Linked DNA regions of Homo sapiens: region 1 is linked to region 2. Evidence: fine-mapped expression QTL. A gene starts in region 2. The other region holds a variant in brackets. All regions are shown on one strand. Distances are from middle to middle.

Evidence for each region. PIP is the estimated chance that this variant, and not a neighbour inherited with it, causes the effect. A credible set is the group of variants that fine-mapping cannot tell apart.
Region 1: its variant is the best candidate, but not a certain one, in a credible set for the expression of GPX1 in prefrontal cortex (BrainSeq, PIP 0.58).

Annotation. Positions count from the first base shown.
Region 1 is chr3:49,397,083-49,402,457 of GRCh38, reverse strand. All of the region lies in intron 1 of RHOA (ras homolog family member A), which reads left to right. Among named protein-coding and RNA genes, the nearest start is that of RHOA, 12 kb to the left of the region's middle. The variant G/AG (reference allele first, on the strand shown) is at 2,881.
Region 2 is chr3:49,356,094-49,361,468 of GRCh38, reverse strand. GPX1 (glutathione peroxidase 1) reads left to right here and starts at 3,116. Exons shown (of 2, transcript NM_000581.4): 1 at 3,116-3,442; 2 at 3,722-4,293. The coding sequence starts at 3,191. The coding sequence ends at 4,081. RHOA (ras homolog family member A) reads left to right here. Exons shown (of 5, transcript NM_001664.4): 5 at 1,087-2,324. The coding sequence ends at 1,260. RefSeq lists enhancers at 2,223-2,831, 2,594-2,923, 2,832-3,440 and a silencer at 3,084-3,143.

The DNA.
Region 1 (5,375 bases), 41 kb before region 2:
TGGCCTCGCAAAGTGGTGGGATTATAGGTGTGAACCACTGCACCCGGCCTAGTTTTTTATTTTAAGAAATATATATACTTGGTAAAAGTAAACTCCTGCAATAAGGTTTACAATAAGCATATATAAATTCTTAGCCAGCTCACTGGGAGGTACCTAATGGTTCATTTTTCTTTGTCAGTTTTACTAGATACGCATTGTCTTAGAGGCAATGTAAGTTTGGAATTAGGCCAAACAAAGTCAAATCCTGATTCTGTGCATCCATTGAAGGTTAACCTTATAATATTTACATTTTGAGATAAATGATTTCATGCTCTTATTTAGGAAACTTGACGGTATGTTACCTCAGGGATTGTTCCTTGCCTGTCTTTCCCCAAAGAACTTGAGTTTGAAGTGATTTTCACTTGGCAGTAAATTGAAGGTTTTCTTCATTGCTTACCACCATGTGCCTTATTCCTGCTGCTCTTGATCTCCAAGTGCCCTTACTGCTACAGAAAGGAAAGCTCTTGAACTAAGAGCTTGGCAGCCACTTGATCAGGATGGCCAAATAATGGCAGTACAGGTTGAGCATCTGAAATGCTTCAAGATGGGCGCTGGCATGACATTCAAAGGAAATGCCTAGTGGTGCCTTTCAGACTTTCAATTTTTGGATTTGGGATACTGAACCAGTAAGTATAATGCAGATATTCCAAAATCTGAAGAAATTCTGAAATCTGAAACACTTCTGGGCCCAAGCATTTTGGATAAGCAGTACTCAACCTATACCAGGCTCAAGTTCATTATGGACAGATGGATGGATGGTAGTTTGGCCCTTTCATCAGGAATTTCCCATGCAGTCAGTAAACAAAATAAACAGCTCTATGTTTTCAACTTCATTTCCCCAATTTTTTTTTTTTTTTTTTGAGACAGAGTTTCATTCTTGTCGCCCAGGCTGGAGTGCAGTGGCCCGATCTCCACTCACTGCAACCTTTGCCTCCCAGAGGTTTCGCCATGTTGCCCAGGCTGGTGTCAAACTCTTGGGCTCAAGTGATCCATCCGCCATGGCCTCCCAAAGTGCTGGGATTATAGGCATAAGCTACCTTGCCTGTCCGTTTTCATATTTTTTTGAGAGATGAGGTCTCACTGTATTGCCCAGACTGGTCTCCACCTCTTGGCTTCAAGCAGTCCTCCTGCCTCCCAAAGTGCTGGGATTGCAGTTGTGAGCCACCACACCTGGTCAGGAGTTTTACATACTATGCGTTGTTACTTGTAGGTCTTGTTTGGAAAGAAGTAACTTCCTAAGGTCAATTCAGAAAAGAAGGGTAGTAACTTAGAGGAAGTAAATTTGAAGGCCCTAGTGTCTAATATTAGTAATTTGGGCTTTTGAAAGTTTCCTTTCTAAAAGGTAGGAAATTAACTCTTTTTTTTTTTTTTTTTTTTGAGACGGAGTCTCTGTCGCCCAGGCTGGAGTGCAGTGGTGCAATCTCAGCTCACTGCAAGTTCTGCCTCCCGGGTTCACGCCATTCTCCTGCCTCAGCCTCCCGAATAGCTGGGACTACAGGCGCCCGCCACTATGCCCGGCTAATTTTTTTGTATTTTTAGTAGAGACGGGATTTCACCGTGTTAGCCAGGATGGTCTTGATCTCCTGACCTCGTGATCCGCCCGCCTCGGCCTCCCAAAGTGCTGGAATTACAGGCGTGAGCCACCGTGCCCGGCTGGAAATTAACCCTTTTATATACCATCCCCCCACCTCACCTTTTTGGCTACAATCTTGCTCTGTCACCCAGGCTGGAGTGCAGTGGCATGATCATAGCTCACTGCAGCCTTGAACTCCTGGGCTCAAGGGATCCAGCTACCTCAGCCTCCTGAGTAGCTAGGATTACAGACGCATGGCACCAAGTCCTGATACAGTCTTCTCTGTACCAGAACAAAGTATTCAGTGATTCAAGCTCACATAGGCATGAAACAGCACTGAAAGACGAAGTGCTGTAGGAGTTCAGGGATAAAGAAGAATTTAGAGTAGCCAGGAAGCCACTGAGGCCTCTGGTGGTGAGGGTGTAACTCTTGGCCTTTAAAATGAGGTTTAGGGGAAATGTTATGAGTAGTGGGAATCAACCCTTGGCCTGAACACAGATAATCTTGTTTTATCTCCTTATAGAAACAGGAGGTGGTGGGGGGTGGCCAGTTTTGGTTAGACTAGGGAAGATGTTGGGGGAGAGGGGGGCAGTATGCTTCTGTAGTTTCGTTTTTTTTGTTTTTTTTTTTTTTTGAGATGGAGTCTCGCTCTGTCACCCAGGCTGGAGTGCAGTGGCGCGGTCTCGGCTCACTGCAAGCTCCGCCTCCCGGGTTCAAGCGATTCTCCTGCCTCAGCCTCCCGAGTAGCTGGGATTACAAGCACGTGCCACCATGCCCAGCTAATTTTTTTGTATTTTTAGTAGAGACGGGTTTCACCTTGTTGGTCAGGCTGGTCTCGAACTCCTGATTCGCCCACCTCGGCCTCCCAACGTGCTGGGATTACAGGCGTGAGCCACCGTGCCCAGCCGTTTCTGTAGTTTCTTGAGTTCAGATTCCAAGATGGATTTTTGCATATGTATTGCTTTATTTCTTACCCCCTTGATGTAATCTACTATATAAATCTTTTAAAGTCCCTACATTTAAAAATTTATCTTGTTCGAAAACATAATAGTTTTATTTGGTAAATTCAAACAGTGCAAAAGGATATATGGCCCCTAGAGGTACCTGTTGTGTTTCTTGTAGACCAGTGCATGTAATCCCAGCACTTGGGGCAGCTGAGGGGAGCCCAGGAGTTCTAGGCCGCAGTGAGTCATGATCACTCCACTGCACTCCAGCACTGCAGCCTGAGTGACAAAGCAAGACCCTTTCTGGGGGAAAAAAAAAAAAAA[G/AG]CTCCTGTGTACTATTCTAGAGACAGTCTATACATATACCAGTGTCTATTGGTGAATATTGTACACCTCTGTCAAGCCCTGTTTTGTATATCTATGTATCCCGCCATTACACTATGGTATGATAGCATATGACATATTTGGCACATCACTTTTTTCATTTAATAATCTTGTCTCAGAGATCATTTGTTAACACACTTTTTTTTTTTTTGAGACAGAGTCTCGCTCTGTCGCCCAGGCTGCAGTGCAGTGGTGCGATCTCGGCTCACTGCAAGCTCCGCCTCCCAGGTTCACGTCATTCTCTTGCCTCAGCCTCCCGAGTAGCTGGGACTACAGGTGCCCGCCGCCACGCCCAGCTAAGTTTTTGTAGTTTTTAGTAGAGACGGGGTTTCACTGTGTCAGCCAGGGTGGTCTTGATCTCCTGACCTCGTGATCTGCCTGCCTCGGCCTCCCAGAGTGCTGGGATTACAGGCATGAGCCACCGTGCCCAGCCTTTTTTTTTTTTTTTTTTTTTTTTTTTTTTTTTGAGACGGAGTCTTGCTCTGTCACGCAGGCTGGAGTGCAGTGGCACAGTCTCAGCTAACTGCAACCTCTGCCTCCCGAGGCAGCAATTCTCCTGTCTCAGTCTCCCAAATAACTGGGATTACAGGCGTGAGCCACCAGTATTAAAGCCCTGTAATAATACTGTAATACTCAGACAGCAAAATTCTTTTTTTTTTTTTTTTTTTTTTTTTTTTTTTTGAGACGGAGTCTCGCTGTGTCGCTCAGGCTGGAGTGCAGTGGCATAATCTCGGCTCACTGCAAGCTCTGCCTCCCGGGTTCACGCCGTTCTCCTGCCTCAGCCTCCAGAGTAGCTAGGACTACAGGTGCCCGCCACCACGACCAGCTAATTTTTTGTATTTCTTTTTTTTTTTCTTTTAGTAGAGACGGGGTTTCATGGTGTTTTAGCCAGGATGGTCTCGATCTCCTGACCTCGTGATCCACCCGCCTTGGCCTCCCAAAGTGCTGGGATTACAGGCGTGAGCCACCGCGCCCTGCCAGCAAAATTCTTTAAGCCCCCACTGGGGCTTAACATCTATTGATGCTACTGCCTACCCTTTCACTGCTCCTTACCTTTAGTTTATCACTGTAATTACCCCCTTTTATGTATTCTCCATTTCTTGTTCTGTCTCTCATTTTATGTTACCTGGCAAAATCTCAGCCCTGGTTTAGATCTTACTTTTTTTTTTTGACAAAGTCTTGCTCTGTTACCCAGGGTGGAGTGCAGTGGTGCGATCTCAAGGCTCACAGCAACCTCCGCCTTCTGGGTTCAAGCAATTCTCGTGTCTCAGCCTCCTGAGTAGATGGGACCACAGGAGCGCGCCACCACACTTGGCTACTTTAGTAGAGATGGGGTTTCACCGTGTTGGCCGGGGTGGTCTCAAACTCCTGACCTCAAGTGATCTGCCCACCTCAGCCTCCCAAAGTGCTGGGACTATAGGTGTGAGCCACCACGCCTAGCCTAAATCCTACTCTTTACCTATTCTGTGCTTTTGACTGAATGTAGCGAAAGAAAAAATTCACTGACTTGTCTCTCTTTGAACTCATGGACCCTTGACCTCAAAGGTGGCTGCTTTTAGCACTGCCTAGCAGTCCCGCTAAGATTCCTTAGTCCGTTTATTCTCCTGCTTTTAGGATAATATAGCACCATGTCCTTTGGCTCAAATCTCCTGTTCCCTTTCCTTGCCTCTATCAGCTGTTATGATCTTGCTTCTTACTTATTTTTCTATTCCTGTGGATCAGTCCCTTGGGAGTCCATTGTTCTATCTAAGGTCAGCCCTTCCACTTGCAAGCGAAATCTCGTTCCCCTCTAATCTCGTAATGTTGCTCTAGCAGTTCTCTGCTCTCCTGCATCATCATTTTCTGCATACAGTCTGTTGGTCAGATCTTAATACCCCACCTAGCTGCAGTGAATGCTGGGAAATGTAGTCTTTATAACTGGCAGCCATGTGACTATGAAGGGGAAAGCTATTGAGGCAGATAAGCAGGCAGTCTCTGCCATACTTTCAACGCTTATTTTTTTTAAAAAAACAAAAACCAACTCTTTTGGTAACAATTTTACTGAGATATAATTCATATATCACACCATTCATTTGAAATGAACAGTTTGGTGGGTTTTAGTATATTCACAGAGTTTTACGTGTATCACTACAGTCAATTTTAGAACATTATTATCACCTCAAAAAGAAACCCTATGTTCTTCAACTGTCATCTTCAATCTCCCTATCACCACGCCCAGCCTTAGGTAACCACTAATCTACTTTGTGTCTCTATAGATTTGCCTATTCTGGATATTTCGTGTAATGGAATCATATATTGTCTTTTGTGACTGGCTTCTTTCATTTATGCAATGTTTTAAAGGTTCATCCATGTTGTAACATTTATTTTCTGACTTTTTTTTTTTTTTTTTTTGAGACAGGATTTTGCTCTGTCACCCAGGCTGGAGTGCAGTGTCTCGA
Region 2 (5,375 bases):
CCTCTCCTCCACTCCCAATGCCTTTTTAAAAGTGATGATGGATGTGGCATCTTGGCCTCTCAGAAACCAGCTGGCCTAATGGCAGGGCTTCCTCACTGGAGGAGAAGCATTGAGATCTTCAACCTAAGTTCTCTTACTCAGGTTTCTCTGTCTGAATGTCAAGGGTAGGCTTTATTTCCTTCAGGGCATTTAGTCCTGGATTGGTAGCTTGAGTAATTTTGCTCTTGATTGACTCCTTAACCTTCCAGGGCTCCTCTGACCTCTTCCCTCTACTTCCCAGTGAATACCATGTTTATTAGAGATTTTATGTTTGGTAGGGGGTAGTTACCATATGTCAGTTTAAAAATTTCATAAGTTTAGCAGTTTGTTGTTTTTTTTTTTTGTTTTGTTTTTTTTGAGAAGGAGCCTCACTGTGTCGCCAGGCTGGAGTGCTGTGGCACGATCTTGGCTCAACTGCAACCTCCGCCTCCCAGATTTAAGCGATTCCCCTGCCTCAGCCTCCTGAGTAGCTGGGGTTACAGGCGCCCACTACCACACCCAGGTGATTTTTTGTATTTTAGTAAAGAGGGGTTTCACCATGTTGGCCAGGATGGTCTTGATCTCCTAAACTCGTGATCCGCCCAGCTCAGCCTCCCAAAGTGCTGGGATTACAGGTGTGAGCCACCACACCCAGCCAAGTTTAACAGCTTTTGAAAGTCTTTTTTTTTTTTAGGCTGGGTACAGTGGCTCATGCCTGTATCCCAGCACTTTGGGAGGCCGAGGTGGGCAGATCACTTGGTCAGGAGTTCGAGACCAGCCTGGCCAAAATGGTGAAACCCCATCTCTACTAAAAAATTACTTGGGCGTGGTGGTGGGCACCTGTAGTCCCAGCTACTCGGGAGGCTGAGGCGGGAGAATCCCTTGAACCCAGGAGGTGGAGGTTGCAGTCAGCTGAGATCATGCCATTGCCCTCCAGCCTGGGCGACCGACGAGCAAAACTGTCTCAAAAAAAGAAAAAAAAATCTTTTAGATGAATTTGAATACTTTTTACTTACTATATGTATGCCACACTATTAGCTAAAAGGACTATTTTTTTTTCTTTGCTAGGAGCCGGTGAAACCTGAAGAAGGCAGAGATATGGCAAACAGGATTGGCGCTTTTGGGTACATGGAGTGTTCAGCAAAGACCAAAGATGGAGTGAGAGAGGTTTTTGAAATGGCTACGAGAGCTGCTCTGCAAGCTAGACGTGGGAAGAAAAAATCTGGGTGCCTTGTCTTGTGAAACCTTGCTGCAAGCACAGCCCTTATGCGGTTAATTTTGAAGTGCTGTTTATTAATCTTAGTGTATGATTACTGGCCTTTTTCATTTATCTATAATTTACCTAAGATTACAAATCAGAAGTCATCTTGCTACCAGTATTTAGAAGCCAACTATGATTATTAACGATGTCCAACCCGTCTGGCCCACCAGGGTCCTTTTGACACTGCTCTAACAGCCCTCCTCTGCACTCCCACCTGACACACCAGGCGCTAATTCAAGGAATTTCTTAACTTCTTGCTTCTTTCTAGAAAGAGAAACAGTTGGTAACTTTTGTGAATTAGGCTGTAACTACTTTATAACTAACATGTCCTGCCTATTATCTGTCAGCTGCAAGGTACTCTGGTGAGTCACCACTTCAGGGCTTTACTCCGTAACAGATTTTGTTGGCATAGCTCTGGGGTGGGCAGTTTTTTGAAAATGGGCTCAACCAGAAAAGCCCAAGTTCATGCAGCTGTGGCAGAGTTACAGTTCTGTGGTTTCATGTTAGTTACCTTATAGTTACTGTGTAATTAGTGCCACTTAATGTATGTTACCAAAAATAAATATATCTACCCCAGACTAGATGTAGTATTTTTTGTATAATTGGATTTCCTAATACTGTCATCCTCAAAGAAAGTGTATTGGTTTTTTAAAAAAGAAAGTGTATTTGGAAATAAAGTCAGATGGAAAATTCATTTTTTAAATTCCCGTTTTGTCACTTTTTCTGATAAAAGATGGCCATATTACCCCTTTTCGGCCCCATGTATCTCAGTACCCCATGGAGCTGGGCTAAGTAAATAGGAATTGGTTTCACGCCTGAGGCAATTAGACACTTTGGAAGATGGCATAACCTGTCTCACCTGGACTTAAGCATCTGGCTCTAATTCACAGTGCTCTTTTCTCCTCACTGTATCCAGGTTCCCTCCCAGAGGAGCCACCAGTTCTCATGGGTGGCACTCAGTCTCTCTTCTCTCCAGCTGACTAAACTTTTTTTCTGTACCAGTTAATTTTTCCAACTACTAATAGAATAAAGGCAGTTTTCTAAACTTCCTGTATCCTGTTGTTTGTGTTGCTCTCTCCAGGGCTGGGGGTAGGAGGATGCAAGGACTTCCTGGCCTAGCTCACCCTGGAGAGGTTTGTTGAGTGCAAAGGACTAGCTTGTGCCCCACCTCCCACCCACCCAGCAGCTAATCTGGTCCCTCCCAACAACATGGAAATGATTACCCTGTACCGCATTCTGGTTCAGATTTGGGGGTAGGGTGAATGCAGCCTGAGGAGGCCAGGGAGGGAGGACTCCGGCAGCGTTTCCTTGGCCTCGGCGAGCTACTGGGCTCCACTTAAGGAGGCTGGGGCAGAGCTTCCAGGACTCTGCCCGGTTAGAAAACCCGCACGAGGGCGGTGCCGCTTTGGAGACAGGGAGGAGGGAGACCGGAAGCCTAGATCCCTCTGGCTGTCCCCTGCACTGCCGGTAACATGGCACAGGAGAGGAGGGCTGTTTGTGCACGGGCAGCTCCTGCAGCTGCTGCCGTCGCCCACCAGCCTCCTATGCCAAACCCCACATCCTAACTCAGGAACCTCTGAGAAAAAACGGAGCCCTCGAGGGCCCCAGCCCTTGGAAGGGTAACCTGGACCGCTGCCGCCTGGTTGCCTGGGCCAGACCAGACATGCCTGCTGCTCCTTCCGGCTTAGGAGGAGCACGCGTCCCGCTCGGGCGCACTCTCCAGCCTTTTCCTGGCTGAGGAGGGGCCGAGCCCTCCGGGTAGGGCGGGGGCCGGATGAGGCGGGACCCTCAGGCCCGGAAAACTGCCTGTGCCACGTGACCCGCCGCCGGCCAGTTAAAAGGAGGCGCCTGCTGGCCTCCCCTTACAGTGCTTGTTCGGGGCGCTCCGCTGGCTTCTTGGACAATTGCGCCATGTGTGCTGCTCGGCTAGCGGCGGCGGCGGCGGCGGCCCAGTCGGTGTATGCCTTCTCGGCGCGCCCGCTGGCCGGCGGGGAGCCTGTGAGCCTGGGCTCCCTGCGGGGCAAGGTACTACTTATCGAGAATGTGGCGTCCCTCTGAGGCACCACGGTCCGGGACTACACCCAGATGAACGAGCTGCAGCGGCGCCTCGGACCCCGGGGCCTGGTGGTGCTCGGCTTCCCGTGCAACCAGTTTGGGCATCAGGTGCGCCGGGCGGAGCGGGGCGGGGCGGGGGCGGACGTGCAGTAGTGGCTGGGGGCGCCGGCGGTGTGCTGGTGGGTGCCGTCGGCTCCATGCGCGGAGAGTCTGGCTACTCTCTCGTTTCCTTTCTGTTGCTCGTAGCTGCTGAAATTCCTCTCCGCCCTTGGGATTGCGCATGGAGGGCAAAATCCCGGTGACTCATAGAAAATCTCCCTTGTTTGTGGTTAGAACGTTTCTCTCCTCCTCTTGACCCCGGGTTCTAGCTGCCCTTCTCTCCTGTAGGAGAACGCCAAGAACGAAGAGATTCTGAATTCCCTCAAGTACGTCCGGCCTGGTGGTGGGTTCGAGCCCAACTTCATGCTCTTCGAGAAGTGCGAGGTGAACGGTGCGGGGGCGCACCCTCTCTTCGCCTTCCTGCGGGAGGCCCTGCCAGCTCCCAGCGACGACGCCACCGCGCTTATGACCGACCCCAAGCTCATCACCTGGTCTCCGGTGTGTCGCAACGATGTTGCCTGGAACTTTGAGAAGTTCCTGGTGGGCCCTGACGGTGTGCCCCTACGCAGGTACAGCCGCCGCTTCCAGACCATTGACATCGAGCCTGACATCGAAGCCCTGCTGTCTCAAGGGCCCAGCTGTGCCTAGGGCGCCCCTCCTACCCCGGCTGCTTGGCAGTTGCAGTGCTGCTGTCTCGGGGGGGTTTTCATCTATGAGGGTGTTTCCTCTAAACCTACGAGGGAGGAACACCTGATCTTACAGAAAATACCACCTCGAGATGGGTGCTGGTCCTGTTGATCCCAGTCTCTGCCAGACCAAGGCGAGTTTCCCCACTAATAAAGTGCCGGGTGTCAGCAGAACTGTGTGTATGTCCTGTGTCATTGTCATTTGGGAATTCTTTTTCTTTTCTTTTTTTTTTTTTTTTTTTGAGACGGAGTTTTTTGCTCTATTGCCCAGGCTGGAGTGCAGTGGCGCAATCTAGGCTCACTGCAAGCTCCGCCTCCCGGGTTCACGCCATTCTCCTGCCTCAACCTCCTGAGTAGCTGGGACTACAGGTGCCTGCCACCACGCCCGGCTAATTTTTTGTATTTTTAGTAGAGACAGGGTTTCACCGTGTTAGCCAGGATGGTATCGATCTCCTGACCTCGTGATCCACCCGCCTCGGCCTCCCAAAGTGCTGGGATTACAGGTATGAGCCACCGCACCCGGCCTGGCGATACTTTTTCTAACCTCATTGTCATAGTGGTGGGAACTTAATCCTCCTTCCCTTATCCTAGCCAAGTCTGAACTTTCTGTCCTTTTGTCTGCAGCGTGTAGGATCCACTCTTTCCTTTGTGGGAAGTCTGGCTCCTGGCCTGCATTTCTGCCTTCACCAGAACATGCAAAGGGCCATCTCAAGACCCAGTTACAACAAAGTCCTTACTTCAAAAAAGACACAAGGCAATGGTTGACTGCCTAACTCAAATGATAGACTTCTGACTACTTGCTGCACGCTGAAATGACTGTCACAAAATAACATGAGCCCCCACTCACATTTGGAGTCATGGCCTCTCCAATTGTTAGGTCCACACAATCCCATTTTACACGGAAGCTCATGCAATGTTATAAATTCTGTTATCTGGCTAGATCTTTCCATGTTGCTACCAAGTGCCTGTATCTGCTGTGACGATGATCTTACAAGTTTCTGCCTCATATATTCAAGAGTGAGAAAACTATAATTTAACTGGCCCTTCTGACTATGCCCTGCCCAACACTTAACGTGCAATTAATTGCACATTCAGGCCCAGGATAAGGGCTTGTCTTTGAAGCCAGCTGCTGCTTCTCGGGCACCACTCAGGTCCAGCCTCTCCATCTGTTGACCCTGCTGCCAATAATCTTTAATTTTTTTTTTTTTTTTTTTTTTTTTGAGACAGTCTTGCTCTGTTGCGCAGGCTGGAGTGCA